Regions from separate parts of the Homo sapiens genome. Here region 1 is linked to region 2. The links come from fine-mapping of genetic effects on gene expression. A gene starts in region 2. The other region holds a variant in brackets. All regions are shown on one strand. Distances are between the middles of the regions.

The links. PIP is the estimated chance that this variant, and not a neighbour inherited with it, causes the effect.
Region 1: its variant is fine-mapped to the expression of AXIN1 in whole blood (TOPMed, PIP above 0.99).

The regions. Positions count from the first base shown.
Region 1 is chr16:276,389-291,969 of GRCh38, reverse strand. ARHGDIG (Rho GDP dissociation inhibitor gamma) reads right to left here and starts at 11,379. Exons shown (of 6, transcript NM_001176.4): 1 at 11,217-11,379; 2 at 10,045-10,224; 3 at 9,862-9,945; 4 at 9,597-9,673; 5 at 9,440-9,503; 6 at 8,960-9,355. The coding sequence starts at 11,289. The coding sequence ends at 9,156. PDIA2 (protein disulfide isomerase family A member 2) reads right to left here and starts at 8,806. Exons shown (of 11, transcript NM_006849.4): 1 at 8,602-8,806; 2 at 7,377-7,583; 3 at 7,178-7,311; 4 at 6,955-7,092; 5 at 6,770-6,886; 6 at 6,533-6,658; 7 at 6,267-6,464; 8 at 5,497-5,617; 9 at 5,235-5,416; 10 at 5,025-5,135; 11 at 4,755-4,901. The coding sequence starts at 8,800. The coding sequence ends at 4,857. It overlaps AXIN1 (axin 1), which reads left to right. Exons shown (of 11, transcript NM_003502.4): 9 at 673-780; 10 at 2,363-2,530; 11 at 3,722-4,530. The coding sequence ends at 3,848. RefSeq lists an enhancer at 10,481-11,238. The variant C/T (reference allele first, on the strand shown) is at 4,357.
Region 2 is chr16:346,117-361,697 of GRCh38, reverse strand. AXIN1 (axin 1) reads left to right here and starts at 8,975. Exons shown (of 11, transcript NM_003502.4): 1 at 8,975-9,329; 2 at 14,592-15,550. The coding sequence starts at 14,673. RefSeq lists enhancers at 1-824, 12,190-12,469 and silencers at 8,307-8,566, 8,607-9,086, 9,187-9,266, 9,547-9,596, 9,617-9,686 and 1 more.

The DNA of each region.
Region 1 (15,581 bases), 70 kb after region 2:
TCCAGCATCCCCCCATGGGGAAACCCAGAGTTGCTGGGTTTGTCCGTCCAGGGGATGTGGGTTTTTGCGAGAAGCTGTGGAGACGGAGTGAAGGCCCAGAGGCAGGTTGGGTGCTGGGCCCTGTCAGGATGTCAGAGTAGAAACCACCATCAAGGTCGCCCAGTGTACCCCGGTGGAGGTGTCCACGTGAGAGGAGCTGCTGTGCTGCCCCAGGATGGCCTCAGTTGTGGCGCCGGGGGGCCCTCAGCCTCCCTGAGGTGCAGACCGAGTTGCCACGCACGCCCCAGAGCCAGTGTCCACGCTATCGGTGGGGAATTCATGCCAAGAGACTGAAGGACAGACTCTCGGGACGAGATGTCATCCCACCAGAGGGGATGAGGTGGTGGGATCCCAGCACCCCTGATCGGAAGCTCCCCAAAGTGCGGTCCAGGGAACTCAGGGGGTTGGTGCCGGGATCATGAATGTGGGGCGCGCTGCAGTATCGGGTACCACCAAGGCAGGCCTAGGAGGGGACTCGGTGTCTTGTCTACCCTGCAAACTGGAGCCTGCGCAGGGTGGGTTGTTCGGGCCCTTCACGCTCCGTCCGTCCCTGCGCAGCAGCATTGGTCGAGGCTCCCTCCCCAGGGCTGGTGGCCGCCGGCACAGCCACCTTTGACGCGGGTTGTTCCCTAGGTATGTGCAGGAGGTTATGCGGCGGGGACGCGCCTGCGTCAGGCCAGCGTGCGCGCCGGTGCTGCACGTGGTACCAGCCGTGTCGGACATGGAGCTCTCCGAGACAGAGTACGTGCGTCCTGAGGGTCCTCCCGGTCCTGCCCACCCCAGCCCTGGCGTCCCAAGCCAGGTCCCATCGTAGAGCCGCCGTCCCGGGGCTTGAGCTCGGGTACCACGCTCAGAAGCAGCTGTGGCAGGAGAGGGTCCCGTGGCATCAGACTCGAAGCTGCCCGAGAGCCTTCTCCTGTCTCCATCAAAGGAGACGCTGACTGTCCAGCATGATGACAAGTGACCAAAAGGCCCGGCTGGAGGCCTGGGCACAGCCAGCCCCTGCATCCACACAGGTGTCACGGCCAGGCTTCCTGTGGGGCAGAGACCTGCCTGCGCCTCCACCCGGCTTGGAACGGGCCGGTCCCTGCCAGGCCTGACTTGACCAGGCTCGGGGCTGCAGGTGCTGAGGTGCCCGGGGTGCGTCTGCTTGCAGTGTGGGTCTCAGCCATGCGTGTCTGTCCAGCCCGTGCAGTCAGTGAGTCGGGGCTCTGCTCCCACCTACAATGCTGACTGCTCTGAACCCGTGAGAAAGGGCTCAGACCATGTGATCCCACATGGGCCGTGTCGACGGCGCCTTTATGTGCTCAAGGTGGCAGGAGGAGGGGGCACACCCCAAAAGGGGCCTTGAGAACAAGGGTCCCCCAGGCCTTGCCAGGCTTGCCCCAGATGCAGGTTTGTTGTGGCCCTCATCGTGTAGGCGGTCTTGGGGCAGCCTTCACCTGTCCCTGGGGCAGCCCCCACGTGTTGGCTCTTCTCTGATGGGCCTGGCTCCAGGAGGCTCCGAGGATGTGGCACTGGGAGGACGTCTAAGAGCGCACGTGGCTGGGGGCCTGGTGTGCAAAGAGGATGGTCACATGGCTCAGGTGGCCATGAGGCCTTCCTGCCCTGGTGTTGGCTCTGGAAGCCTCTGGTGCACCCAGCCAGGAGGAGGCCCAAGGGCTGAACCCCAGTGGGCCAGGGGCAGCTTCTGGAGTCACTTGAAGGACAGGTGGCGGCGGGGTAGCCGAGTGGGGGGTGCGAGAGCAACCAGGCCCCGCCCGTCATCCCGGCACGGCTGTGGAAGCACAGCACCTGTCAGAGGAGGGCCCGGCTCAGCCTGGGCAGGAGACGGTGCCAGCCCTGCCCCCTCTGAAGGGCCTGCTGGCCACCCCCGCCCCAGTCCTCCGACAAACTTCGCTGCGGGGTCAGGCTTATCCAGAAATCGTGCACAGTTCTGTTTGTCCAATCCCTGCCCTTCAGATGTTTTTAAGGTTTGGGGGCCGTAGGTCTTCCTGAGATAGGAGCCCTGCAGCCTGCCCTGCCATCCTAGAGGTGGGAGCTGCAGTGCACCTGGCAGCCAGGCCCTGGCCAGTCGAGGGTGGGGCTGTGAGGCAGCAGGGAGACCTTCGTGCTCCCAGTGAGCGGAGCCGACTCCACTGCTAGCGGACTAGATCCCAGATTGAGATGCTGTGCGGGGGCTGCGGGCCCCAGGTGTTTGAATGGGGTGCTGCTCACCCCTGCAGGCCTGCCCCGCCTTACACTGGCAGCCTGAGGCCAGCAGGAGGGACCCTGTGGGACCTCAGTCCAAAACCAGGTACCACCGCTGCATCTCTTTCCCCAGGACAAGATCGCAGAGGAAGGTGGGCGGCGGGAGTGCCCAGCCGTGTGACAGCATCGTTGTGGCGTACTACTTCTGCGGGGAACCCATCCCCTACCGCACCCTGGTGAGGGGCCGCGCTGTCACCCTGGGCCAGTTCAAGGAGCTGCTGACCAAAAAGGGCAGCTACAGGTGAGTGTGAGGGCTGGGGTGCCCCCTCCCCGCACGAGTATGTGGGTGCCCAACGGTATGAAAAAGAGGGTTTCCAGCCGGGCACAGTGGCTCACGTCCTAATCCTGGCACTTTGGGAGGCTGAGGTGGGCGGATTGCCTCAGCTCAGCAGTTCGAGACCAGCCTGGGCAACATGGTGAAACCCCGTCTCTACTAAAAATACTAAAGAAATTAGCCAGGTGTGCTACTTGGGAGGCTGAGGCAGAATTGCTTGAACTCGGGAGGCAGAGGTTGCAGTGAGCTGAGATCACGCCACTGCTCTCCAGCCTGGGTGACAGAGCGAGACTCTGTCTCTACCCCCGCCCAAAAAAAAAAAAAGAAGAAAAAGGGCTTCCGGCCATTTCAGCTCATGTCCCTCATCTGCAACTAAAGCCACTTCTCCAAGCCCTAGGCTGAGGGTGGCATCAGGCTTTCGGCCCCACAGGACTGAGAGGGTCCAAAGGGACCCCCGTCCAGGGCCCTCATCTTCGGGGTGGGAAAACAGAGGCCAGACCCCTAGACGACGATGGTCTGAACCTTGTGTTAGGCTCCCCTAGGCCGACCTTGTCTCCAGGCTCTGGACTCATGTGCTTTTGCCTGACTGAAAAGCCAAGCCCCCTCCTACCAAGGTTCATTCGCCCTGGGCCACTCAGCCCTGCAGGGCCCTGCGTGCAGCCAGCCTTGGAGGCTCCCGAGTGAGCACTGGGCGGTGAGCAGAGGGGGCCTGACCCCAAGAGCCTGGCAGAGCCTGGCGGGTGGTTCCCACCGTCCACAAGCCACTGTGCAAACACCCCATGACTGCAGATGTGGTGCTGAGGGAGGGCCCCAGTTGGGGTCACCTCCATGACGGGGCTCAGCCCTTGGGAAGCAGACACCCCACACCCGTCCACTTCCCCCCTGCAACTCCTGAGAGGCTGGGGCAGGTACTCCCAGGGGGATGTGGGGTGCTCCCAGCAGGCAGTGAACTCACCCCCCATGGCTGCCCACTTCACCCACATGTGGTCATTGCACTGTTCACTGTTGCCCTGGGAGGGGGCGCACATGCAGTGGGGGCCGTGGGGCATGGACAGGAGGCTCCTCGGGATGGGGTGTGGACACGCCGTCCCCTGCCACAGGCCTCCTTCCCATCTGCGGTGCTGCCTGCTCACTGCCCTCCTCACCTCCGTCCTGCAGATACTACTTCAAGAAAGTGAGCGACGAGTTTGACTGTGGGGTGGTGTTTGAGGAGGTTCGAGAGGACGAGGCCGTCCTGCCCGTCTTTGAGGAGAAGATCATCGGCAAAGTGGAGAAGGTGGACTGATAGGCTGGTGGGCTGGCCGCTGTGCCAGGCGAGGCCCTTGGCGGGCACGGGTGTCACGGCCAGGCAGATGACCTCGTACTCAGGAGCCCGATGGGGAACAGTGTTGGGTGTACCACCCATCCCTGTGGTCTACCCGTGTCTAGAGGCAGGTAGGGGGTCCCTCCAAGTGGTCCACAAGCTTCTGTCCTGCCCCCAAGGAGGCAGCCTGGACCACTCCTCATAGCAATACTTGGAGGGCCCAGCCCAAGTGAGGCAGCCGAGGTCCCTGCTGCCAGCTTCAGGTGACCCCCCCCCATCCCCCGGCACCTCCCTTGGGCACGTGTGCTGGGATCTACTTTCCCTCTGGGATTTGCCCACGTACCCAGGTCTGGGTGGGGCCCAGGCCCGGATGCAGAGGCCTGCAGGGCCTCTGTCAATTGTACGCGCCACCGAGTGCCTTCAACACAGCTTGTCTCTTGCCTGCCACTGTGTGAATCGGCGACGGAGCACTGCACCTGCCTCCAGCCGC[C/T]GGCTGTGCAGTCCTGGGTCCTCCTTTCTGAGGGCCCGTGTAAATATGTACATTTCTCAGGCTAGGCCAGCAGGGGCTGCCCGAGTCTGTTTTTCATGCGATGACACTTGTACAATTAATTATCTTTTCAAAGGTACTTGGATAATAATGAAATAAAACTGTTTTTGAACCTGCCCTGGCTGTGGTGTGTCTTCTGCGGGTGGGGCCTGGCCTAGGTCTCCCAGCCTCAGCCCCCGTGGTAAAGGAGGGCACACTGGCCTCCAGCAGGCATGGGGATCACCTGTGACTCAGAGGCTGGCAGGGCTAGAGCAGGAACGTGCTCCACCTTCCTGCCCTGGAGCCCCCAGCTGGGCAGAGCTGCATCAGGCCAGCCTTGCTGAGGGACCAGGCACACAGAGTCCAGAACCAAGCTCACTCTTTATTCACAATGCACAGCTCCCTCTGGTACCCAAGGGGGTGGCTCCTGTCCAGCAGTGATGGCGGGGGTGACACGGGGGCAGCTACAGTTCCTCCTTGGACCCCATAGTGGAGTTGGCCGGTGGCTCCTAGAAAGGGTCACAAGTGCAGCTCGAAGCTCTGCTCCCAGCCTACCCCTGCCCCCGCCCCTGCCAGCCCTGTGTAAAGAGGATTTGTGCAGAGGCCTGGAGCCCTGGCTTAGGGACACCCACCGGGAACGGGGCTGCTGGCTCCTCCGGGGGCTCCTCCGTGGGCAGCACGCCCCCGTTGTCCAGGAACTTGGAGAAAGTCTCCAGGTCCCTGGTGCTTTTGTATTCAATCACCTGAGAAGAGGCAGGGGGATCTGGAGGACACGTGGGGCCCAGCCCCATGCCCAGCAAGATGGCACCCCGGCTTCCTCCCCAGCCACCTGTCCGCCATACCTTCCGACCTGGCCCTGCTGGGAAGTACTTGAGAGTAGGGAAGCCGTGCACAGCGAAGGCATCCAGCTCGTTGGCCGTGGCATCCAGCTCAGCAATGATGATGTCCTCGTGGTCTTGGTACTTCTCAGCCAATGCCTCCCAGGCAGGGGCCATCTCCTTGCAGTGGGTGCACCACGGGGCATCTAGGATGGGAGCCGTTGAGCACAGCCATCTGGGCAGCCCCTGCCCAGCCCACACCACCCCTGCCTCCCTCAACACTCACAGAACTTGACAAACACATTCTTGGTTTCGTCAAAAGCCACCTGCTCAAAATTCTTGCCCACGAGGGTCTTAACTGGCCGCTGATCCCAATCAGGGGGTATCTCCTGGCTCAGGAGATAGGGCTGGGGGAAACCAGGACAGGCGCTTTGCCAGGGGTCCTCTGCAGGGTTCAGGAGGTCCTGTGCAGGGCCTGGGGGGTGGGGGGGAGGTCCTGTGCGGGGTCAGCGGCAGGGGGAGGTTCTGTGTGGGGGGGGCGGTGGGGGGGAGGTCCTGTGCGGGGCCGGGGGCAGGTGGGGGGGAGATCCTCTGCAGGGCCTGACAGGGAGGTCCTCTTCAAGTTTGGGAGAACTGTGGGGTTTAGTGGGGGGAGGGAGAACTGTGGGGTTTGGTGGGGGGAGGGACCTCTGTGGGGTTGGGGTTGAGGTTGGGGTTGGGAGAACCGCGGGGTTGGAGAACCGCGGGGTTGGGGTTGGGAGAACCGCGGGGTTGGGAGAACCGCGGGGTTGGGAGAACCGCGGGGTTGGGGTTGGGGTTGGGGTTGGGGTTGGGAGAACCGCGGGGTTGGGGTTGGGAGAACCGCGGGTTTGGGGTTGGGAGAACCGCCGGGTTGGGGTTGGGAGAACCGCCGGGTTGGGAGAATTGCCGGGTTGAGGGGGGCCTCTGCGGGGCCTGCAGGGGCAGGGGGCTCTGAGAGCTGCTGTTCCCACCCCCTGCCAAGCTGGTGGGATGAGGTCAGGGTTCCCCTTCCATTATGAGCAGTCTGCAGCGGACCTTGACTTGGCCGTTGAGGACTGCATGGCAGAAAGCAGTGATGGACGCTGCGGTGACAGGGCCCCCATCCACAGGCGCATACTTCTTAGTGGTTTCAAGGTTGACCAAGCGCAGAGTGGGGGCTGCCTCAGCCTTGAGTCCAAAGTACTGCAGCACGTGCTCATTGTCGGCCGCCACGTCCACCACCACGAACAGCACCTGTGGCAGGGAGTCCATGCTGGCACCGGCCACTCTCCCGCTGCCCCTTTCCCCCAGCCCCCCAGTACCTGCCCCCGGAAGCGGGGAGCTGCCTCCCCAAAGCCCGCTAGGAGCTCCCGGTGCGCAGCCAGCGTCTGGTTGACAAACAGCAGCAGGTGGTTGAGGATCCTGGCCGCGAAGATCTTGGCAGACGTCTACAGTAGGGAGGGTGCTCATGACTCCACAGGACCCCCAGCCTAGGCACCCCCATCCCTGGACGACTCTACCCTGGGACACCCCCAGCCCAGGCACTGCAGCCTACGCACCTGGCTGTTGAACTCCGTGACCAGGCGCATGCTGTGTGTGACCAGGAAGCGCGACAGATCCCCCAGGTCCAGGCCAAGCTCCTCGTCCACGGGGAAGTCTGCCCGCCCCTCATCAAACTGGACAGCAGCAGGTGGGTTAGCGGGCGCTGCAGCCGGACCCCAACCCACACCTGGGCCTGACCTACCTTCTTGAAGAGAACCACAGTGTCCTTGGTGAGGCCAAACTGCTGAAAGAGCCGCGGCCGGTCTGTGAGGCCAAAGGTCATGTCCAGGGCGTCCTGGGCCAAGGCCAAGAAGGTGGCCACGTCCTCGTCCTGCAGGTCCTGAGGGGCCTGGCCCTGTGAGGCCACCCGGTCCCACCCACAGTCACTGCCCTCATGGCCCGGCCCCCCATGCCCAGTGGCTCACCTGGAAGAAGCCAATGACCACTAGGTCCCGGCCACCGATCAGCGCCTGGGCGGCCGCCTCGTCCTCCAGCCGCATGGCACTGGGCCCCACCCGCCGTCGCAGCCACTCGGCAATGCCCTCAGCGTCCCGTGGTCCTGCAGGGAGTCCCCCTCAGCCTCGGCCTGGCCACCGCCCCCCCAATGACCGGCCTGCCCCTCACCTGTGTACTCCTCCGGGTGCGTGCGGTTCCCATTGCGGAAGAACTTGAGCGTAGGGTACTCCGTCACACCAAACTCCTCAGCCAGCTCGCGCTGCGCGGGCCCATCCACCTTGGCCAGCGTGACCACCATTGACTCGGCCGCGAGCACGGCAGCTGCCTTGCTGTACTCGGGGGCCAGGGCCTGGCAGTGCCCACACCACGGGGCATCTGGGGGATGGGGCCGTGAGTGCCCCAGGCCACCACAACCCCAGGAGCACCCTCTCCACACCTGACAACCCAGCAGGGAACAAGCGTGCTGCTCCATTCTGCCCTGAGCCCTGGCCGTGGACAAGCCGAGCACCAGTGCCTCTTCGTGGCCCCCCAGGCTGCAGCACAGGGACCAGTAAGGCTTGGGAGAGCTTGAAAGACCACCCCCCCTCCCCCCACAGCCAGGCTCAGTGGCTCACGCCAGTAATCCCAGCACTTTGGGAGGCAGAGGCGGGCATATCACCTGAGGTTGGGAGTTCGAGACCAGCCTGACCAACATGGAGAAACCCCATCTCTACTAAAAATACAAAAAATATTAGCCGGGATTGGTTGCGTATGCCTATAATCCCAGCTACTCGGGAGGCTGAGGCAGGAGAATTGCTTGAACCTGGGAGGCGGAGGTTGCAGTGAGCCGAGATAGGGCCACTGCACTCCAGCCTGGGCGACAAAAGCAAAACTCCATCTCAAAAAATAAAAATAAAAAGACCCCTCCCTTTCGTGCCTTGTATGGCTGGGGCTCCCGGGCCCATGTGGCTGCCTGTGAAGGCCTCCTAGGCAAGAACAGTTCCTATGTGTGTCAAGGGTTGCGAAAAGACCACAGGGCACACACGTCAGGGACCTCCATGGGCCCCCAAAGCCTGGATACTGCCCGAGCCTCTGCAGAGTCTGTGGGATGCCCCTGGCAGCTGGAGGAGTGGCCGGCAAGGTGGTGACTCTGGCACCGTGGCCGCTGGCCGAGCAGGGAGGCACAGGTGTTCTCAAGTCCTGTGGGTACCCCCAGTACTACCACACTGCTCCTGCCTGCCCCAACCAGACCCCCAGGCCCCTCCTAGAGAGCTCCTGGGCACAGTGGGGGCAAGTGCCTGCGGGGAGGCCCCTCTTGGGCACATGCCCTGCATTTGCCGGCAAAGGGTGGGGCCCCCAGGTGGGCTCTGCCGGTCCCCCGCCGGTCCCCAGCCCCACTGGCCCCAGCACTCACAGAATTCCACCAGCAGGGCAGGGTGCTCCCGCAGGGCCAGGCCCAGGGTGTGGCGGCTCAGCACCAAGATCCCATCCTCCTTGGGGATTTCCTCCTCTGGAGGCTCCTCCGAGGGGCTCCTCGCTCCCTGTTCCTGACCCCATGGGCACGAAGCCCTGAGCAGCAGCAGCAGCAGTACAGGCAGAAGCTGGCGGCTCATGGTGCTGCCAGGGCGCGTGGGGCGGGGGCAGATAAGGGGGCCAGAAGCCAAGCAGCAGCTGCCACGTGGCACACAGGCCCAGTCCCAGCAAAGACAAGGCCCATGCGGCCGCCCCCGGCCCCCAGGGGAGGGGAGGCAGAAAGAGACGACACCCAGGGCACCGAGAGAGACAGGGCCATGTTTAATGGGACAGCTCAGGGGACAGCGCCAGGCCAGGGGGTCCCGGGACAGAGCAGGGGCAGCAGGGGCAGCAGGGGCAGCAGGGGAGGGTCTGGTCACTCACGGGGGGTGCTGGGGATGCTTGGGGGTCCCTGTGCAACAACTGAGGGAGGTAGGGGAGACACGGACTGGGGGTTCAGTCCTTCCAGTCCTGGCAGATGCAGAGACCCCACTCCCAGGACAGGTGGTGCGTCCTGTCATCGTCGGTGAAGAGGGACACCACCAGATAGGGGCCCCGCACCAGCGCACCCCTCGGCGCTTCCTCCACCGGAGTCACAAACTCATACTCCTGGGCGCTCGGGCCATAGCTGCCCACCATGTAGACGGTCTTGTCCACTAGGGAGGGCGAGGGCATCAGAGCTGTCCTCTGTCTGCCCCCGCTTCCCCCCCCCGCCCCGTTCCCCCCACCGCTGCCCTCACCGCGCAGGCCCCGGCGGTAGGTGTGGTGCAGACACTTGAGGCCGCTGACAATCTCCCTGTGGACCTGGGAACAGAGGCATTAGGGGTTCCTCTGGGGGCCAGGCCTCTGGCTGTTGCCCCCACCCCCATCCCCTCCGCCCATTGCCCCGGCTCTCACCTTGAAGGAGATCTTCACTCTGTAATCAACACCTTCCTTCAGGACAAACACCTGGTCCTTCAGAACAGCCAGGTCCCCTATTGGGGAAACCTCAGCTAGGGTCGGAACTCCCCTACAGGCTGAGACCTGCTCCAGGAGCCCCCACGTAGGGTGTGGTACCCATGAGGTGTGCGACTGTGATGGCCCAGGGCTCGGAACTCAGGGGTGCAGAAGCGTGCCTGGGAGGGCCCTACCTGTGTTCAGGGTGCAGCATCCTGCGAGTTACCTGTGAGATCCATGACGACGGGCCCCGGAGCCTGTTCCGACAGGAGTGTCAGCCTGGTCACCTGCACATTGGGCAGGCTTGGGTCTGAGGAGAAACTGGAAGTCTGCAGGATGCCCCCCACCCCCACCAGGCTCCTCACCAGCCCCCCAGACCCAGCCCTCCAAGCCTAGACCCCTGCCATACCCACGGCCGGTGGCAGGGGCCCCAGCAGCACCCGCTTGTACTTGGCCAGGCTCCTGTCGTCCGGGTCCAGCTGCCGGATCTCCAAGAGGCTCTTCCTCCCCGGCGCCCGGTACTCGGGCACAGCCTCATCCAACACCTCGTCCACTGCCGGCGGCCCACCCTCCTTGTCAGCCAGGAGGACTGGGGGTGGGGAGGGGCGTGAGCAGCAGCCACTAGCGGACCCTGGCATTCGAGCACCAGGCTGGAGCCCCCTCTGGCCAGCTGTACCTCCCACTATCCAAAGGGACTCAAGGGAAGCCTCTGGGGGCTCAGGGAGAGAGCGAGCAGAGAGAGCAGGGCGGCCTGGGGAGGTGCCGCACCGCACCCAGACCTTCAGGAGGGGCCTCCAGAGACCGCCAGGCCTGCAGCTCCTCTGGCCCAGATGTCCACAAGGGCCCCCTCCCTGACTCGGAGACCAAAGGGCGGGGGAGCGAAGACTTCAGATGAGGGCAGCCCAGGGTCAGGGGCTACCTGCTAGAGAGCAGCGGCCCTCGGCGGCCCCCAAACCTACTGACCCTCTAGGGCCCTCGGCGGCCCCCAAACCTACTGACCCTCTAGGGCCCTCGGCGGCCCCCCAAGCCTACTGACCCTCTAGGGCCCTCCACCACCCTGCTCTGGACTGGGGTCTCTGAACACTTTCCCACAGTCTAGGAGTTCCTCCCCATGGTGCTCGGGTGCCGGGGGCGGCTGTCTCCAAATCCCTGGGCTCAGGCTCTGCGCCGCCTCCCATGGCGCCCCGGGCTGGTGGCCTCCTGAAGCCCCTCTCCCTGGTGCCCTGGGCAGGGGTTTCTGAGTCCCTGCCCACTTCGCTCCCGTCTTCTCGGGGATCACCACACGCCCTACAGAGCCTGAGCCCCAGCCCCAGCCCCACCCAAGACAGAGGGGCTCCAGGCGGCGGTGTCCAGGGGGAGAGGGTCCCAGCGCCGCCGCTTCCCAAGCCGACCCGTCCGCACCTGGTCCCTTCCCCACAGGGCTGGAGCCTGGATGAAGTCCCCCACCCCTGCCAGACCCCAGCCGGGGGGTCGGCGCCGCGAGGTCCCCATGCGCGCCCCCAAAGTTGCCGCGGGGGAGGGGCTACTCCCCGCCCGGGGCTGAGACCAGCCGAGCCCCCCGCCCCTGCCCGGCCCGCTCACCTCGGGCGCACAGCGCCAGCCGGAGCAGCTCCAGCAGCTGCGCCCCCAGCTCGCACGCGTCCAGGCCCAGCATGGCGGCGCGCGGCCCGGGCGCCGCGGAGCCGCCGAGGAGCCGCCGCCCGCCCCGCCGCCGCCCCGCTCGGCGCTCAGCCCCGGCGCGACTGCGGTGAGCTCATCCCGGCCGGGAGCGCCCCCCGCGCCCAGCCGCGCCCGGCAGAGAGCCCCCAGCCGCTCCGGACCCCGCGCAGCCCCGCAGAGACGCGCGTGTCGCCCGCACGGGCCGGCACCCGGGTCGCCCCCGCCGGCGTGCCAGGACCCCGCACAGAAGCGCCCGGACGCGGACGCACGCAGCCGCGGTCACGATCCCCGCCGCCCGCCCGGCCCGTGCCCGGCTCTGGCCAGCAGGGCTGCCCCACCCCCACGGCGCGGCGGGAGCCCGAGGGGGTCTCCTGGGAAACCCTCTGCGGGGCGCCGTGGCGCAGGTGCGCCCCCATCCCCAGGGTCTCATTATCCGCGGCCACACCTGGGGCCGGACCGCGCGCCCCCTTCCCCTCCCCCGCTCCTGAGGGAGCTTCTGTCTGGGCCGAGGGGGACTCCGGGGGCCTGCCCAGCCTTGGGGTGAGGGGCTGGCCCAACACCCTACAGGTTCACGGTCATCAGTAGGGCGGGACCACAGTGGGCGCGGGTCGCACGCACACCCAGGAGGCAACAAGGGCCCCTCAAAGGCTTAGCGACCTGGCTGCGCTGTGTGAGTTCCCAAGAGGGGGTGTCCCTGCAGGGCTCTTGGAAACCCAGTTACCGAGCCCCCTGTCCTCAGGGAGAGGACACTGACAAGGGGGCGGAGTACAGAGACCGGAGCACAGAGGGGGCTTCTGATATTGACACCTAAACTGAGACCTGTGGGTGGGTGGGGGGGATGGGACCCGGCAGGGGACAGGGGTGAGCAGGCCCTGGCTGGGACAGCTGGACCAAAGGCCTGCGTCTGGATAAGGGAGAAGGGGTCCGAACACCAGCCTGAGTCCCTTTCTTAGACACCCCTGGCCGGTTCCAGGGACACCAGAAATTAGACCCGCCCTTGCCAAAGAGCTCCTCAATTGAGAGAAGACCACCTTGGGTGCTAGGGGGCATTGGGGTTTGGGTGGGGACTGTCTCCCTTGCCCCCCAACTGCCCACAACCTTTCCAGGGCAGGATCCTATGAACTTGTGCCCAGGCCCCCCTAGAGCGCCACCTCTGCTGACCCTTCGCTGCAGGGAGCGGGGGCTGTTAGGACACTTGTCCCCAGGCCCACAGCTCCAGCTCCTGCAGCTGTTACCAGATAGAAGGTCTTGGAGGTGAGTTGTCCAGGTTCTTGGTGGGTTGAACAAAGAATTGAACAAAACGCACAAAGTAACAAAAGAACAACGAAACACAAGGAAACAAAACTGAGTCAGAAGAACGGAGTAAGGAAAGCACAGATTTAACGGAAGGCAATTCACAGAGTGGGAGTGGGCTGGAGCAAGTAGCTCCAGAGCCTCTGTAATTAGGATTTTTATTAAGCAAAGAAACCTGACCACAGCCCTTGTGCCCTTTAGAGGCCTCCAATTGGCTACACCCTATGAAGGATTGGCCCGAGACCAATCAGAGGTGAAGTGGAAATTTCTGTCTTGTTATCACAGCAGCCAGGATGTGGCTTGTGAGCTGCCCAATCCTGCCTAGAACTGGCTGCACCTGCTGTTCCGTTTCTTATGCCCAACCCTTGGCTACCCTCATTCCCTATTCTGCCTCACAGCTACCATGGGTGCCCACCCCTGCAGACAGGGCAGCCAGACCTGGGCCACCTCACCCCACCTGGGTGTGGGGCATGGGAGGGCTCACTGGGATCCAAGCGAGATGGTACCCTGGAGTAAGAGACCCCACAAGCCCCCTGCCCCAGCTCATGCTGAACGTGGCCTCTCCGGCAATGGAAATGGACTCAGACCACTATGTTAGGGGCTCCCAGCCCAAGGCCAACCGCCCACCCTGCCCAGCCCCTAGCACCCTCTGAGTGGGTAAGGATGGGGAGAGGTACTCTGCCTCCAAGAAAGCAGAAATAGACCAGATGCGGTGGTACACATCTGTAGTCCCAGCTACTCAGGACGCTGGGGTGGGAGAATCACTTGAGCTCAGGAGTTTGAGGCTGCAATGAGTTTATGATTGCACCACTGCACTCCAGCCTGGGTGACAGAATGAGACTGCCATCTCTCAAAAAATAAATACATAGCCAGGTGCCATGGCTCATGCCTGTAATCCCAACATTTGGGAGGCTGAGGCAGGAGGATCACTTGAGGCCAGGAGTTCAAGATCAGCCAGCCTAGGCAACACAGCAAGAAACTGAGGCCCTTACAGACAGGGATAAGCGAGGGGCTACGTGTATATTTATCTACAAAAATAAAAATGAAATTAAAAAAAAAATTAGTGGCCAGGTGCGGTGGCTCATGCCTGTAATCCCAGCACTTTGGGAGGCCAAGGCAGGTGGATCACTTGAGGTCAGGAAGTTTGATACCAGCCTGGCCAACACGGTGAAACCCCATCTCTACTAAAAATGCAAAAAAAAAAACAAAAAAAAAAATTAGCCGGGCATGGTGGCGCATGCCTCTGATCCCACCTACTTGGGAGCTGAGGCAAGAGAATCGCTTGAACCCAGGAGGCGGAGGTTGCAGTGACCCGAGATTGCACCATTGCACTCCAGCCTAGGCAACAAGAGTGAAACTCCATCTCAAAATAAATAAATAAATAATTTAAAAAATAAAGAAAGCAAGCAGAAATAGATGCATTTGCACCTTTTAAAAATGGTGCTGAGGCTGGGCTCGGTGGCTCAGGCCTGTAATCCCAGCACTTCGGGAGGCCGAGGTGGGCAGATCGCCTAAGGTCAGGAGTTCAAGACCAGCCTGGCCAACAAGGTGAAATGCTGTCTCTACTAAAAATACAAAAATTAGCCAAGCGTGGTGGCGGGGGCCTGTAATCTCAGCTACTCAGGAGGCTGAGGCAGGAGAATTGCTTGAATCTGGGAGGAGGAGGTTGCAGTGAGACGAGATTGCGCCATTGCACTCCAGCCTGACAGAGCAAGACTCAGTCTCAAAAAAAAAAAAAAAAAAAAGATGCTGGCTGGGCATGCCTTTAATCCCAGCACGCTGGGAAGCTGAGGCAGGAGGATGGACTGAGCCCAGGAGTTTGTGACCACCTTGGGCAACATAGTGAGACCTCGACTTAGTTTTTAAAAAATGATCCGACCGGGTGTGGTGGCTCACACCTGTCATCCCAGAACTTTGGGAGGCCAAGGCAGGTGGATCACCTGAAGTCAGGAGTTTGAGACCAGCCTGGCCAACATGGTGAAACCCCATCTCTACTAAACATACCAAAATCGGCCAGGCACAGTGGCTCACACCTATAAGCCTAGCACTTTGGGAGGCCAAGGCAGGCACATCACCTGAGGTCAGGAGTTCGAAACCAGCCTGGCCAACGTGGTGAATCCCTATCTCTACTAAAAATACAAAAATTAGCTGGGTGTGGTGGCGCGTGCCTGTAATCCCAGCTACCTAGGAGGCTGAGACAGGAGAATCGCTGGAACCCAGGAGGCGGAGGCTGCAGTGAGCCAAGACCGCATCACTGCACTCCAGCTTGGGTGACACAGTGAGACTCCGTCTCAAAAACAAAAACAAAAATAAAAATTAGCCAGGCGTGGTGGTGGGAGCCTGTAATCCCAGCTACTCAGGAGGCTGAGGCATGAGAATTGCTTGAATTCAGGAGGCGGAGGTTGCAGTGAGCCGAGACTGCCCGGTGGGGCCTGAAGATCCTGGGCCTGGCTCGGGGTGCACCTGGGGGACAGGCATAGCCATTGGAGGAGGGAGAGAGCTGGGAGTGGAGTGGGGCCTGAAGCCTGGCGGCCGCCGGTGACACTAAGTGGGTGTGTGTTGAGGGCCTCCCTGCAGTAAAGCTCCTCTCCAACAGTGTCAGGGTGCCCTGGGCAGGGTTTCTGCTCATTCCCCAGCGGGCCACCCAGGCCTGCGTGGAGCTGAGGGAAGTGAGCCATGAGCCATCAGCCACTTTCCCGGAAGGACCCCGGATAAGGGACCCACAGCAGGAGATGGGGACAGCTGGGTCACACTCTGCAGCAGCCACGTGCTCCACTGACAGCCGGCATCCGGCCCATGTAGAAAGCTGACCCAATCTCTCATGCACCCTGCCCCTAACCAGCCACCGTCACAGCAATGTATGCAGTCTTGGCCACAAGCATCGCAGGACACAAGGCCTCGGGCAGTCATACCGCTGGCCCTGGCCCCGGCCCCACAGCCAGGCCTCTAGTCCCTGTATGTCCTCAGGGCCCCACACATAGGACCGGGGTTACA
Region 2 (15,581 bases):
TCAGCAGTCAGGAGTGGCTCGGGGGTGGCGGTGTCTAAAGGGGCTGGTTGCCATGGCTACCATAGGGTTCTGAGGCCCGTCATCTGGTCCCTGCCTCAGCCAATCGGCGGCAGGAGCCCGAGCTGCAGCCCAGAGTCACGCTTCTGCCTCCCAGCCACACAGTGGCCAAGAGCAGGGACCTGCTTCCCAGAGTGGCTGAAAGTGCTCGGACGGACGGCCAAGCCCATCATGGCGGACAGCGGGACGGTGGGGCGTGAGCAGGCACACGGAGCCAGGCAGGTGAGGTAAGCCGGGCAGGCGGCCGGGCGGACAGGTGGACGCGCCTCCTCTGCCCATTGTTCTCGCGGCTGCGGCCCTGCCCTCGGCCCACCCCACCCTCGAGTGCAAGCCCACACGCAGCGCCCGCACCCTCACCCTCAGACCCTCTCCGGGTGTCCCGAGGAAGGGTCAGGGGAAGAGACAAAGGGAGCAGGGTGAGGCAGGATGAATCCTGACGGACCTCGGACCCCAAAACCGCCCCGGTGGGTCTTCCACGTCAGGTTTCACATGGAGGCGGCATCAAAGACCCCCGACTGATCCAGGCCGGCGTCCCGGCCGCCACTCCAAGGTTAGGAGACAAGCCATGTCAAGTCGGTGCCGTTTAAGCAGCATTTTTTCGAGGAGAAAAAAAAAAAAGAAACAGAAGCGATATAAAGAAAAAAAATGTCCACCTATGACACGGGAAGCGGCCAGCCCGATGGATCAGAAGCGCCAAATCCCATTACTCGGGACTTCAGGGACAGGCCCTGCAAGGGCAGCTGCGATTAAGAGCTTGTCAATGGACTCTCCTTTAGAGATCAAAGCGGGGCGTGCTTGTGTGTGTGTGCGTGTGCACGTGTGTGCGCGTGCACGCGTGTACGTGCAGGAGCGGACACTGTGGGGTGACAGCACAGAGGTCGTGCACCGCAGCACCACGGGGCCCATACGTCGCCGACGCGGCCACCTCCACACTGCTTGCGTCCTTGCTGCCGTGTGCGACGTGTGTGGACGCGGCTGGGGGCCTGGGCCGGGTACCTGGTCCCAACACCTGCACCCTTTCAAAGGCCTCCACCTCCTGCTAGAGGCCGTGCCTTCCCCAGGTTCTGCCCAGAGGAGCCCGCAGGGGCCGAGCTGGGTGTGAGGACAGCCGTGGCTGCGTCTCCTCCCCCCGACCACGTCCTGCTGCCCACAGAGGCCTTGAGCTCTCAGTTGGCCTGGCAGGCGCGCCCTGGGGGTTCAAAGCTCCCGTTGACACGATTGTTAGGTTATTAGGTAAACTCTGAGACGTAAATCTTTTAATCCACTGTGGCTAATCCGGTTCACTTTTGTTTGCCACGACAGACGCCGCGGCGACAAAGGGGCCTGGGGCCCAGCACACACAGTCACACGCTCAGAACTTGGCCGCGGCCTCAGGGTTCCTAGGCAGTGGAGAGAGACATCTTGGGACAGCCAAGCAGAGGGAGGCGGCGGAGGGCACAGGTGGGCGGGGGCGCAGGTGGGCCGGGGCAAAGGCAGCTGCCCGCTGGGGGCCGCACTTCCTCACCTCCCATTTAATGTCCCCTTGCCAGCTCGAGGGGGAACCGCTGGGCACTGGGGTGTGCAGGTATCGGGGCCGCTGGGGATAGTGGGCAGAAGGACAGATGAGCACCAACGGGGGGGCGGCAGCGCCCGGAGAGGCGTGTGGGATGGAGGCCGTCAGGGCAGGGAAGGGCGTTCAGGTGAGGGAACAGCAGGGACAAGGACTGTGGTCGGTGTGGCAGGGGCAGGAGTCCCCCCAACAAGGACAGGAAGCGGCCTGAGGCTGCCCAGGGAGGTGGGACGTCACCTGCTACTTCCCGAAGTCAGCGCGAGGCCCCTCGGGGCATGGCCCCTGCACTTGGATGCCACCTCTTTTTGGGAAAACAGCACTGAGGTTGGGGGAGGCCAGCAGGCCCTGCCCTGTGCTCACAATGTGCCTGGGACACCAGACCTGGTCCATGGCCAGCCGTGGGCTCCATCCCGCCACCCGGCCTGTCAGAGAGGGTCACACACGGACCTCTGGGGCTGTGAGGCCAGGTCAGGACGATCACTTTGCCCAGGGGGACACTGGCACAAGGAGGTGCCTGCTTTGCCTAGGGCTACAGGCTGGCCCAAGACAAGGATGGGCACTCAGGTCTCCTGGGAGGCAGGTGCCAGGCCAGGCCCAACAGTCCCCTGATGTCAGCAGCTCCCGAGTTGGGAAGTGGTGGCCGCCCTCCCCTCCTACTTCCCCAGCCCCTGCGGCCGGACCCTCCAGGCAGGCCTACTTGACCACATCCTGGTATCCACCTGGCCCCAGTCCCAGCCCCTGGACACCCTGGGGTCAGAACTCTTCAGAAAGGCAGTGCAGGAGGACTCCCCTCAGGACACTGGGAGGTGTGGACAGTACCCTGGGATGGAGGGGACCGCCTCTGGGCCGCCTGGCTGGCCAGGCCCCCGCCCTGTTGCCAGTGCTTTCCTGTTGGCCTTGGCGTCCTGACCCTTGACCCCTGGAGGCCAGCGGGGATGTGGGGACTGTCAGGTCTGCTGGACGGGGCTGGGCGCAGGCGACGTGGGTGACGGCAGGTCTGGGGCCTGCCCCAGGGGACAAGTATGGACCCGGAGCCAGCGGGGACCAAGCACTGTGGCCACAGCAGCCGTTTCATTTCTTTTTCTTTTTTTTTTTTTTTTTTGAGATGGAGTCTCACTCTGTTGCCCAGGCTGGAGTGCCTTGGCACAATCTTGGCTCACTGCAACCTCTGTCTCCTGGGTTCAAGTGATTCTCCTGCCCCAACCTCCCCAGTAGCCGAGATTACAGGGGCCTGCCACCATACCTGGCTAATTTTTTGCATTTTTAGTAGAGATGGGGTTTCACCACGTTGGCCAGGCTGGTCTCGAGCTCCTGACCTGAGGTGATACGCCCACCTTGGCCTCCCAAAGTGCTAAAATTACAGGCGTGAACCACTGTGCCTGGCCTAATTTTTGTATTTTTAGTAGAGACGGGGTTTCACCATGTTGGCCAGGCTGGTCTCGAACTCTTGACCTCAGGTGATCCACCCGCCTCAGCCTCCCAAAGTGCTGGGATTACAGGTGTGAGCCACCGAGCCTGGCCACACACAGCACCCGTTTCTTTGGGCCCCTGCCCCGCAGCGGCTGAGTGGTTCACCCTCCACCTCTCTGTGGGTGGGTCCTCCTGACCACAGGTGCCCAGCCAATGGTGGGTCCCGGGGGCAGAGGCCGTCAGGTCATCCATGGCCATGGTGACAGTCACACTGACCTGATATTGGAGCCAGGGCATATGAGGTAGGGCCCTGCTCCCCTTCCCCCAGGCCTCTGCCTTTTGTGGGGACCAGGATCACTCCTGGGGCATCTGCCCTGCGGAGGCAGCTTTGGCTACAGAGCTATGTGGACCACTCCAAATAGGAAGCGTGTTGCAACATAGTTGGATGACACACCTGCCCGACAGGTGTGAGGGGGAGAGGAGGAAGGACCTATCTAGGGGCACATCAGTGCTAAGGGGGCTGCCAGATGTGGAGGCCGGGGAGGCCCCAGCCCAAAGTGACACCAACAGCTGGGATGGCCCAGGAAGCCCCTGGCAGGGTGTGTCTCTCAGGAAGGTGGCAGAACCTCCATGCCAGGCCCCAGGCCACCGTGGGGCGATGTGGCTGCCATCAGCCGTGACCATCACCCTGCTGGACACACACTGCCCAGTGGTCAGTTCCACCCCTCAGGGCCTCAGCCGTGATGCCCGTCTCCTTCAGTGGGTTAACTTACACAGACCGTTCCACGGGACCATAACTGTTACATCCCTGTAGACATTCCTGAACATGCAAAGAAGAAAATGGAACTTCATGCTTCTGCTTCCACTAATAACACGTGGACTGTTTTGAGTCTTCTTGCCCTTTTTTTTTTTTTGAGATAGAGTCTCGCTCTGTCGCCCAGGCTGGAGTGCTGTGGCGCGATCTCAGCTCACTGCAACGTCCGCCTCCCGGGTTCAAGCGATTCTCCTGCCTCAGTGTCCCAAGTAGCTGGGATTACGGGCATGCGCCACCACGCCTGGCTAATTTTGTATTTTTAGTAGAGATGGGGTTTCTCCATGTTGGTCAGGCTGGTCTCGAACTCCCAGCCTCAGGCGATCTGCCTGCCTTGACCTCCCAAAGTGCTGGGATTACAGGCGTGAGCCACCACGCCTGGCCCAGTGTCAGGTCTTTCTCTCACCCAGACTGGAGTGGAGTGGCACCATCTCAGCTCACTGCAGCCTTGACCACTCGGGCTCAAGCCATCCTCTTGTCTCCGTGTACCTGGGACCACAGGTGCACGCCACCATGCCTGGCTAATTAAAAACAATGCTTCTATAGGGAAAGGGTCTTGCATTGTTGCCCAGGCTAATCTTAAACCGCTGACTTCAAGTGATCCTCCCGCCTCAGCCTCCCAAAGTGCTGGGATTACAGGTGTGAGCCACTGCGCCCCGCCCACATTTTCTATTTTCAGGAAAAGTGGTGCCCTGTGTGCGTGGCCTGGCGGCATGTCTCTGGGGTGTTGTAGCTCCTTGTTCTCTGTCGGGCTTGGGATGGGGGCACAGGCAGCATCTGGCCTCTCCTGTGGGCTCAGAACTGATGGAAAAAGAAGGCTCAGGGATGAGAGCTGGGGCTCGCCTTACAGCCTGGAAGGCGGTGGAGGGTGGTGGGGGCTCTGCCTGCGATGGAAAGTGCAGTCCTCCCTCGCCTGAACGGGATGGTCCAAGGCCTCCCTCCCCCTCGAGGGGCCTCCCTCCCCTCCAGCGGCCTCCCCTGCCTGCCCACTCCCACCTCTCACACCTATGGACTGAGCGGAGGGGGCAGAGAAGGGGCAGACTGGAAGAGGCTGAACCCAAGGCTTCCCTCAGCCTCCAGAACCCTGGATCAGAACCGTCCGTCCTCTTCCCCCGCTCCCCTTACACTGATGCAGGGTCGGTGGCTGCACAGTGTCCATCTCTGCAGCTGGCTGTCTCCATCACACATCGTACAGCGGCAAACACTCCCCAGCTAATGTCCTTGGGGTGTCTTCCAGGGTTTCCTTTGGGTCATTTTTTATAAGTGGTCTTCCTCAGTTAAATGGATAAACACACTTAAGGCATCAAAACTCACTTTATTATTTTCTTAATTTTTATTTCTTGGAGACACGGTCTTACTCTGTTGCCCAGGCTGACGTGTAGTGGCTCAATCACAGCTCACTAAAGCCTCCAACCGCTGGGTTCAAGTGATCCACCTGCCTCGCGCTCCCGAGTAGCTGAGACCATAGGTGCGCAACACCACGCCCAGCTAGTTTTTAAAAATTGTTTAGTAGAGACAAGGTCTCACTATGTTGCCCAGACTGGTCTTGAACTCCTAAGCTTAAGTGATCCTCTGGCCTTGGCCTCCCGAACTGCTAGGACTACGGGTGTGAGCCACCGTGCCTGGCCTTTTCTTTATTTTTATTTTTTTGAGACAGAGTCTCGCTCTGTCACCCAGGCTGGAGTGCAATGGGGCGATCTCAGCTCACTGCAACCTCTGCCTCCCAGGTTCAAGCAATTATCCTGCCTCAGCCTCCTGAGTAGCTGGGACTACAGGTGTGCGCCACCACGCCTGGCTAATTTTTCTATTTTTAGTAGAGATGGGGTTTCACCATGTTGGTCAGGCTGGTCTCGAACTCCTTACTTCGTGATCCACCTGCATCGGCCTCCCAAAGTGCTGGGATTACAGGCGTGAGCCACCGCTCCGGGCCAGCCACTTTATTTTCAAGGTATTCCTTTTAGGCTGGGCATGGTGGCTTGGGCCCGTAATCCCAGCACTTCGGGAGGCCAACGCAGGTGGATCCCTTGAGCTCAGGAGTTAGAGACCGGCCTGGGCAACATGATGAAACCCTGTCTCTAGCAAAAATACAAACAATTAGTGGGGTGTGGTGGCACACGCCTGTAATCCCAGTTACTCGGGAGGCTGAGGTGGGAAGATCACTTGAGCATGGTAGGTGGAGGCTGCAGTGAGCCAAAATCACGCCACTGGGCTCCAGCCTGGGCAACAGAATGAAACTCCGTCTCCAAAAACCAACAAACAAAAAAACATACCTTTTATGTCTACATTGAAGAAAATAATTCCATGTCTGCTCTTAAGTGTCTCATTTGGTGCCTAGAAACAAAACCTGATTAAATGTCATCTACGGTCAATCAAATAAAAGCCTTCGTGGCAAACTCACGCTCGAAGCAAAGGGCGTTTGCCTCTTCAAGGAGCTCTGTGAGGAAGGGAGGTGGCTGAACCTCACCCTGCACACCACAGGCCCCCGCGCGCCTCCCTGCCCCTCCTCAGGGCCTTCCTCTACCTCTCTTCTGCCTGGCCTGCCTCTGGTCTCCTCCTACCCCCACTAGGCTCAGAGAATCTCCCCTCCACACCCACACCACAACCTACTTTAGAAGGGCTGCTGCATTTCCTCCAGGCTTTCTGACCCCCTTCCTGTCCCTGCAGGGCAGGGGCCCCGAGGAGCTGGAGGCCCAAGGGCCTTGTTCTGGTCCCAGGGCCTGGGGACACCTGCCACCGAGGGCCAAGAGGAGGATGGACGTGGACACAGCCCCGAGAGCCTGGCCCGGACACAGCAGCAGCTCTGCAGAACCAAGGCAAGCATTGGGGACCTTGTTGGGAGTCGGGGGGCAGCCCAGGGGCCAGTGTCTGAGGTCCTGCTGTCTGTCTGGCCACCCAGGACTCCCTCATCCCTGGAAACTGTGCTTTACCATGGAGGCCACCCACTCTGTCTCCTCTAAGGTTCTGAGGCTGAATGGGCTAGGGGGCTTGCGGGGAGGCCCCAGTGTCCAGCACTGTGGGACCTGGCAGGGTGCCTGCGGCCAGGACCCAGCGGGGCCAGGTGTTGGTCTAACAGTGCAGCTTCGTTCATATCCCCAGCCCCTGCCCACCTGCTCTGAGCACAGTGATGGCCCTGGGAGGTGGGCCTGGGCCCTTGGCAGGCTGGGGACAGCCTAGTGGCCCTTGTCCCATGCTACCCCCTTTCCCACACAGCGATGCTGGCATCAGACACCATGCTGAGTGCTGGCAGGGGCGAGGGCTGGGAGGCTTCCACACATGGTTCCCCATGCAGTCCCACCTGTGGGCATCTGGTTGGGGGTAGGCTGGAAGCTCGGGGAGCCTGGAGCTGGGACTTCTGTGCTTGCCTGGGAGCTCTGAAGGGTGAGGCTGGGCATCCAGGGTGACACAGCCCAGGGAAAGACATGGGGGTGACGTGAGAGGTGCCTGGAGGGAGCTGGCAGGTATGGACATGATGGACACGGAAGCACGGAGGCGGGCAAGTGGCCAGACGCATCTAGGGGAAGGTGTGGGGGAGGCGCCCTTAGGAAGGGCCCTGAAGGGCTGTGGGCAGCAGGGAGCCCTGGGAGGCCTAAAGCAGAGGGCAGATAGATGAGGGCTGTTGTCTCAGGTGTGGGGCGGACGAGGTGGGGAGCCCTCACCCAACAGGAGGCGAGCTGGTCCTGTGTGGCCTGAACTGCAGCTGTCTCCTCTGTGAAACGGGGGTATAGCTGACCCCAGGGGGCTGCCTGGAGCATCCCGGGAGGTGCCAGGCCCAATAGTGCTCTGGGAAGGACAGGGCCCTGGGCTGTTGTGGGAGGCGGCAGATCCTGGTACTCACATCCTCCTCCTTGGGGAGGGCCTGATGGTTGGCTGAGGCCTGGGTGGAGAGCAGAGGGTTGGTTCTGACAGGGTTGGGCTGGCCAGAGCTGGTGCTGGGGCTGCTGCTGGGGGCCCGTGCCTCTCTGCCGTGGGGTGCCTGGGGCTGTGACCTCATGCTCTGTGGCCTGCAGGGCAAGTGACACGGATCTGGGCAGCCAGGGTGGCAGGATCGGACTGGACCCCTTGGCAGGGCCGCTGTGGAGACAGCCCAGGGGAAGGGGTGCAGGGGTCTGGACACTCCAATGGCCTTGCTCTCGGGCTGGCCTGGGCAGCGGAGGGAAGGAGAACCCTTCTCTGATACTAGATGGTGCCTGGGAGAAATCAAGGCAGAGGGTCCTAGCCGGTGGGCTCTTTGGAGGTTGTGGCTCCTGTCCGGGTGAGAGCCACCATATATTGGGGCCTAACGTGTTCCCTGGCGCTGTGAGTCCAGGCTGCCTTGGGACTCAGGAGGGTGGAGCCCACCCCACCTTCCAAGGGCCCTGGCCATCCCTGCCTGCCGACCACCCCACTCCTGGGAGCCTGCTTCCCTCACGGCGGCGGGCAGGCCGTGGCGGTCCCCACGAGGGCCTCCTCTCCAGGGCCGGCTGGGCAGGGAGCCCCGAGGCCTGCAGCCCCCTGACTGCCCTCCGATGTACTGGCGGCAGAAAAGGGCTGCGCCCCACGTGCGCCCTTCGGGGCGCGCAGTCCGCCCAGTGCTCCCCACGGCCGCGGCCATTCCAAGGACCTGCAACGCCGCCTCTCCCACTCCGCTCTCTGGGAAGCCAAAGCCTCCCGGGCTCCGCTTCCGCACCGCCCCTCGGGAAGACGGCGCGACCGCGCCCCCGGCACGCCCCGCCCCCGGCAGGCACTGACCACGCCCTCTCCCGGCCATGCAGAGACCCCGGCCCATGTTTCTCAACTCGTCTTCTCGCTTCCGGCCCCGCCCCGCGCCGGAGGCCCCGCCCCACGCTCTTTACCTCTTCTGCTCGAGGCGGGCCCCGCCTTACTCCCTGGTCCCCGCCCCACGCCCGAGGCCCCGCCCCGAGCTCTTCACCTCGTCTTCTCGCTTCCGGCCCCGCCCACGCCCCGGCCCCGCCCCGCGCTCCTCACCTGTCCCCTCGCTGTCGGCCCCGCCCCACGCTCCTCACTTTATCCTCGCGCTTTCAGCCCCGCCCCGCGCCTGAAGCCCCGCCCCACACCCTTTACCTCGTCCCCGCGCTGCCGGCCCCGCCCCGTGTTGAGGCCCCGCCCCGCGCTCTCACCTCGTCCCCGCGCCCCGGCCCCGCCCCCGCACTTCCGGACGCCGCCGGCGGGGGCGCTCGGGCCTGGGCTTCGGCGCTCTGGCTCGGGCTCTGGCTCGGGAGGCGATCGTGGCCGCTGCCGCCGCCAGAGCCGGCCGGAGTCGGCCCGGAGCCGCGTCCACGCGGAGCGGGCGGGTGGGAGCTGGCGGCTGGGCCCCTGCGGCGCCCCCGCGGCCTGCCCCGCGTCCGCCTCCGGGCCGCCGAGCCGCAGCCGCCGAGATGGGGGCCGCCCCGGGCCGCGCCCCCGCCGGGTCCCGCCCGCCGCGCTGCCGCTGAGCGCATGGGCCCGGACCGCGCCGCGCCGCTCCGGGAGCCGGGCCCGGGGTCCCGCCACCACCGCGCGCGGGTGAGTAGGGCCGGGCTCCGGGGCGGGCTAGGCCGCGGTAGGCCGGGCGGGCGGGACCCGGAAGCGGCGGGGGGCGCGGGTGGCTGACGCGCGTGGGACCGAGGGGGTGGGCGCGCGGGGAGCTGGGGCCGGGGTGTCCCTGGGCAGCGGGACTGGCGGCGCGGTGGCCGCTTGGAGGTCCGAGGCCTCGGGCGCGTCTCGGGGCACGGAGCAGCTGCAGGGGCCGCGCATCGCGTGCGGGGGCCCGGGAGAGCCGGGCCTGGAGCCCTCCCCGCCGCCCAGAAGTCGGCGGGAGTCCGGCTGTCCCGGAGGAGGACACTCCCGCCCGCCCTCGCCGAGGCCGCGTGCCGGGTCCGGGTCGGGGTTCGGCCTGAGTAGCCGCGTGCTCCGGCGTCCGTACCCTCCAGGTTGATGCCTTGCTGCCCAAACACTGGTCTTTCTCTTGGGTGTGGTTCTTAGATTCTACCCCCGCCCCGCACTTTGGAATTTAGCCCCCGTGAAACCAGAGCTGCACTGCCCGAGCAGTGAAACTTTCAGCTTGGCATTGAAGAAAGTAGAGAAAAACATGTCAGTTCTCTGGGGATTTTTCTCAGCCCATCTATAAGATATATATATATATATTTTTTGTAGAGATGGGGTGTCACTATATTGCCCAGCAGGTGTTGAATTCTTGGCCTCAAGCGATCCACCTGCCTCAGCCTTCCAAGGTGTTGGGACTACAGGGGTGACCACCGTCCTCTAAGATAATTTTTTTTTTTTGAGACGGAGTCTCGCACTGTAGCCCAGGCTGGAGTGCAGTGGCGCTATCTTGGCTCACTGCAACCTCCGCCTCCCGGGTTCAAGCAGTTTTCCTGCCTCAGCCGCCTGAGTAGCTGGGATAACAGGCATGCGCCACCACATCCGGCTAATTTTTGTATTTTTAGTAGAGACAGGGTTTCACCATGTTGACCAGGCTGGCCTGGAACTCCTGACCTCAGGTGATCTGCCCACTTTGGCCTACCAAAGTGTTGGGATTACAGGCGTGAGCCACCGCGCCTGGCCCCTTCTAAGATAATTTATAAAGGGTTCTTATGTGCATGTCAGCCCCTTGTTTTTGCTCACACTTCTGTTCTCTGCTTCTTCAGGAAGAATCTCGAGCTTACTTGGATCCACAGGCCCTATTTTGGAGAAAACACAGTCTAAACCGGCTACCCGAGATACTCAGCAATAGCTCGGTTTCAGTTTTTTTTTTTTTTTGAGACAGAGTTTTGCTCTTGTTGCCCAGGCTGGAGTCCAATGGCGTGATCTCCGCTCACCGCATCCTCCGCCTCCCAGGTTCAAGCGATTCTCCTGCCTCAGCCTTCCCAAGTAGCTGGGATTATAGGCATGCGCCACCAAGCCTGACTAATTTTGTATTTTTAGTAGAGATGGGGTTTCTGTATGTGGGTCAGGATGGTCTTGAACTCCCGACCTCAGGTGATCCGCCCACCTCGGCCTCCCAAAGTGCTGGGATTACAGGCGTGAGCCACCTCACCTGGCTTTGGTTTCAGTTTTAAGATCTCCATTCAGGGACAAGGATGGGAAAGCATGAAAAACAGACTGTTTTTGTTTGATTTTCAGCTGGTGTTGACTTGTCTTGGGTTTCTAGTTTCAGAAAAGCTAAGCAGACTTTTTCGGATTACATTGGTCATTGAGAATTTCAGTGATGGGGGAATAAATTACATGTGAAATAGTAGCCCTGAACCTTCAAGAGTTAAATCAATGGACAGCTGGGAAGATGTCAGAGTCGTGTTGTGTTACTTGCCTCCTCCATGTAAATCAAAATGTCAAAAGTTACGTTTGGGTAAAATAAATACCTACACACGTAGGTAGCATTGAGTTTGCTGCCATGATGCCTGGAGCATATGCCTAAGCGGTGACGAAAGGGAATTTTAAATACAGTATCATACTTGTAGGCATCCCGCCCGTTTTATGGACTCACTTTATTGATGGTAGCTACAGGCTGTGGGCCAGATTCAGTGCTTGCAGGCATTTGATACTGAACTGAGTAAACGTGACTGCTTTATGTGTGGTGTGTACTTGTGTGTACACTAAATGCTTGGTGTGCTTCCCTGTGGGAACCCAGAGATTTCAGGAATTGGGACATGTTTCAACAACATCAGTAGCTTGTAGAGGGGTTCATGTGCTTCCAGGGACACCAAAAAGTCTTCTGTCAGTTGACAGCCAAAAATACACATGATTGTAAGAAAATTTTCTTCTGGGCTCTGAAAATTTGGTTCACACATGAATTAAAACATTAGTTTTGGGGCCAGGCAAAGTGGCCTGTAATCCCAACACTTTGGGAGGCCGAGGCGGGTGGATTGCTTTGAGCTCAGGAGTTTGAGACCAGCCTGGCCAACGTGGTGAAACCCAAAATACAGTAATTAGCCGGGCGTTGATGACTCGTGCCTGTAGTCCCCGCCACTTGAGAGGCTGAGGCTGGAGAATTGCTTGAGCCTGGGAAGCTGAGGCTGCAGTGAGCTGAGATCGCCCCACTGCAGTCCAGCCTAGGCGACAGAGCGAGACCCTGTCTCAAAATAACAAAAAACAAAACAACAAAACCCATTAGTTTTGGAAGAATTTGCTGCTGTTTTCTGTGGTACAGTAGTTCAGCCCCTGTAGAGAGCCAGTGTTTGGCGTCTGTGACAAATGTCTTTTCTTTTTTACATCAGTGAATGACTTACTGGTGCCCGTTAGTTGCAGGACCTTGTGCTGGGTGCTGTGGGTCCCGCTACTACCAATAATTAACACAGAAGACTTAAGTCCCTTATGAGAGCATGATGGTGACTTGTGGTTAGCCTCCCTTCTGAGCACTGTCTGATTAATCACTTTCCACTCTCCGGTGACTTGGTTCTTCAAGCTAGTGAATGGTAGTACATCTATAGTGGTAAGGCTCAGGTGGTCAGGGTGCAGGCCTTCTTTCCTGTGATGGCGTCCCAGACAGATGACCGTGAGCTAGTGTGGAGGTGCCCACGCCCAGGGTGCTCCCTCCATGCTGATGTGGCTCACGGAGTGACTGCCGCTGAAGTGGTCTGTGAGCAGCAGGATGTCACAGCTCACTGGGCCTTGACCTTTAGAAGCTGTGTGTTCCTGCTGAGGCCAAGATGACATACTACCCAGCAGCGTTCACAAAAAGTCCTTAGCTGCTGAAATGTCATTGGGGGCACATAGTTGCAAACCATCCTCCATCTATGGGTGCTTCTTATTTATTTACTAATTTTATTTTATTTTATTTTATTTTATTTTTTTGAGACAGAGTCTCACTCTGTCGCCCAAGCTGGAGTGCAGTGGCCGGCGCGGTGTCGGCTCACTGCAAGCTCTGCCTCCCGGGTTCATGCCATTCTCCCACGTCAGTCTCCCGAGTAGCTGGGACTGCAGGTGCCCACCACCATGCCTGGCTAATTTTTTGTATTTTTAGTAGAGATGGGGTTTCACCGTGTTAGCCAGGATGGTCTCGATCTCTTGACCTCGTGATCCGCCCGCCTTGGCTTCCCAAAGTGCTGGGATTACAGGTGTGAGCCACTGTGCCCGGCCTATTTTTTTTTTAGAGACAGGATCTTGCTCTGTTGCCCAGGCTGGAGTGCAGTGGGGTGCGATTATAGCTCACTGCAGCCTTGAACTCCTGGGTCAAGTGATCCTCTTGCCTCAGTCTTCCAAGTAGCTGAGACTACAGGCATACGCTACCATACCCGGCTAATTAAGAACTGTTTTTTGGTAGAGATTGGGTCTCACTATGTTGCCCAGGTTAGTCTTGAACTCTTGGGCTCAAGGGATCCTCCAGCCTCAGCCTCCTGAGTAGCTGGGACTACAGGTGCGTGACACCACGCCTGGCTCTGTGGATCCTTCGTGCTTCCAGCCGTGAGCAGCTGTTGGCTGGTAAAGTGTGTGCAATGTGAGGAAGTTGGTGTGGGGGACAGATTCCACATAGACAAGGGACAGCAGTGTGGAGTGGTGGCTGGGGGATAGATCCCCCTTCAGTTGGTCCTGGGTTTTAGGGTTTTATTTGTTTGCTGTGACTTGTTCAGCACTCTAGGCTTTTGAACCCAACATGCTTCTCTAAAGCCCTCTCTCCAGCCCCTTTTAGCCAGGACCACTTACATCATGGCAGGCTGTTGTTTCAGTCACCTGCATGGCCGGGTTGACAGGCATAGCCAGAGCTCCTGGGCTCCTGTAGGACGTGGCAGGAAGGACCATAGACCATGGCAGGGGTTCTGTTGGAGCCCTTATCTACTCTCTTTTGCACACCCCTTGCAGGCTTGTAGCAGCAGCAGCAGTAGTAGCAGCAAATTCTATAGTTCCCTGATGTCTAAGAGGGTGGGTGGTTTGGTTTTCAGCTTAAGGAGTGAAGTCACATGAACTATAGCTTCCTTAGCTAAAAATTGTATTTGCATTTCCTTTTATTCTGTACCTTCTCTGTTCCTTGAAGTACCCATTTACTATTTGCTATCTGAATCCTCATCAGAGAGGCTTTTCAGAGTCAAGTGCAGCATTCTGACAGAGCATTTTAAGATTGTCTCCAGTGACGGTGTCCGAGCGCCTCTGTGGGCCTGGGTGGTGTCCTTGATCCCTCGGTCGATGGGGCTGAAGGTGACCCATGATTATCTCTCTTTGAGGCGTGTGTTGAGAGTCGGAGGAACACCCTGCAGTGTGTTCTCATGTGTCGGAAGGTGTACCACGCGTGACGTGATGCAGCAGGTAGAAAACAGTGGCCGTGGGCCTGGAGGACGTGGGGTTCAGAAGACGCCCACCACCTTCGGGGCTGTAGCGCACCTTCCTTTCTCTCTGAGTGTTGCTGGGGCTGGTGGAGCGATTGTCTCCATCTTACTTGTGAGGGTCCAGCCCTCACTCAGGTTTGTACACATAGTCAGGACTAGAGGCAGCTTTCCTTCCTCCGGTCTTCCTGCCTTCCCTGTCCCTCAGCTCTGCAGCTGAGGTGGGAGGTGCTCAAGCTGCCAGCCTCCGTGATGTTTGTGCAGTGAGACTTGTGGGGAGTGGCATTCCCATGTCCTGGGCATCCCTTCTTAGCATGAGAGGCATTCCTGTAGTTGTAAAAGTTTCCAGAAATTGCTTTAAAGTAGAACTATGCTTGTGGCCAAAATATATCTTGATTGAACATTTAAACTGAGTTTCTTGCTTTGAGTTTGAGCGGGAGGGCGTCATCGTGAGTCTTGTCTTGAGAAAACCTCTGGTCGTGTTTCATGGACCCACCTTTCCTAATCCTTGTCCTCTTAATGGTTTCAACAGGACAGATTGATTCACTTTGGAGCTGTAAGTACTGATGTATTAGGGTGCAGCGCTCATTGTTCCTTGACGCAGAGTCCCAAAATGAATATCCAAGAGCAGGGTTTCCCCTTGGACCTCGGAGCAAGTTTCACCGAAGATGCTCCCCGACCCCCAGTGCCTGGTGAGGAGGGAGAACTGGTGTCCACAGACCCGAGGCCCGCCAGCTACAGTTTCTGCTCCGGGAAAGGTGTTGGCATTAAAGGTGAGACTTCGACGGCCACTCCGAGGCGCTCGGATCTGGACCTGGGGTATGAGCCTGAGGGCAGTGCCTCCCCCACCCCACCATACTTGAAGTGGGCTGAGTCACTGCATTCCCTGCTGGATGACCAAGATGGGATAAGCCTGTTCAGGACTTTCCTGAAGCAGGAGGGCTGTGCCGACTTGCTGGACTTCTGGTTTGCCTGCACTGGCTTCAGGAAGCTGGAGCCCTGTGACTCGAACGAGGAGAAGAGGCTGAAGCTGGCGAGAGCCATCTACCGAAAGTACATTCTTGATAACAATGGCATCGTGTCCCGGCAGACCAAGCCAGCCACCAAGAGCTTCATAAAGGGCTGCATCATGAAGCAGCTGATCGATCCTGCCATGTTTGACCAGGCCCAGACCGAAATCCAGGCCACTATGGAGGAAAACACCTATCCCTCCTTCCTTAAGTCTGATATTTATTTGGAATATACGAGGACAGGCTCGGAGAGCCCCAAAGTCTGTAGTGACCAGAGCTCTGGGTCAGGGACAGGGAAGGGCATATCTGGATACCTGCCGACCTTAAATGAAGATGAGGAATGGAAGTGTGACCAGGACATGGATGAGGACGATGGCAGAGACGCTGCTCCCCCCGGAAGACTCCCTCAGAAGCTGCTCCTGGAGACAGCTGCCCCGAGGGTCTCCTCCAGTAGACGGTACAGCGAAGGCAGAGAGTTCAGGTGAGTCCGACGCCAGGCGTCCACTTTCTGT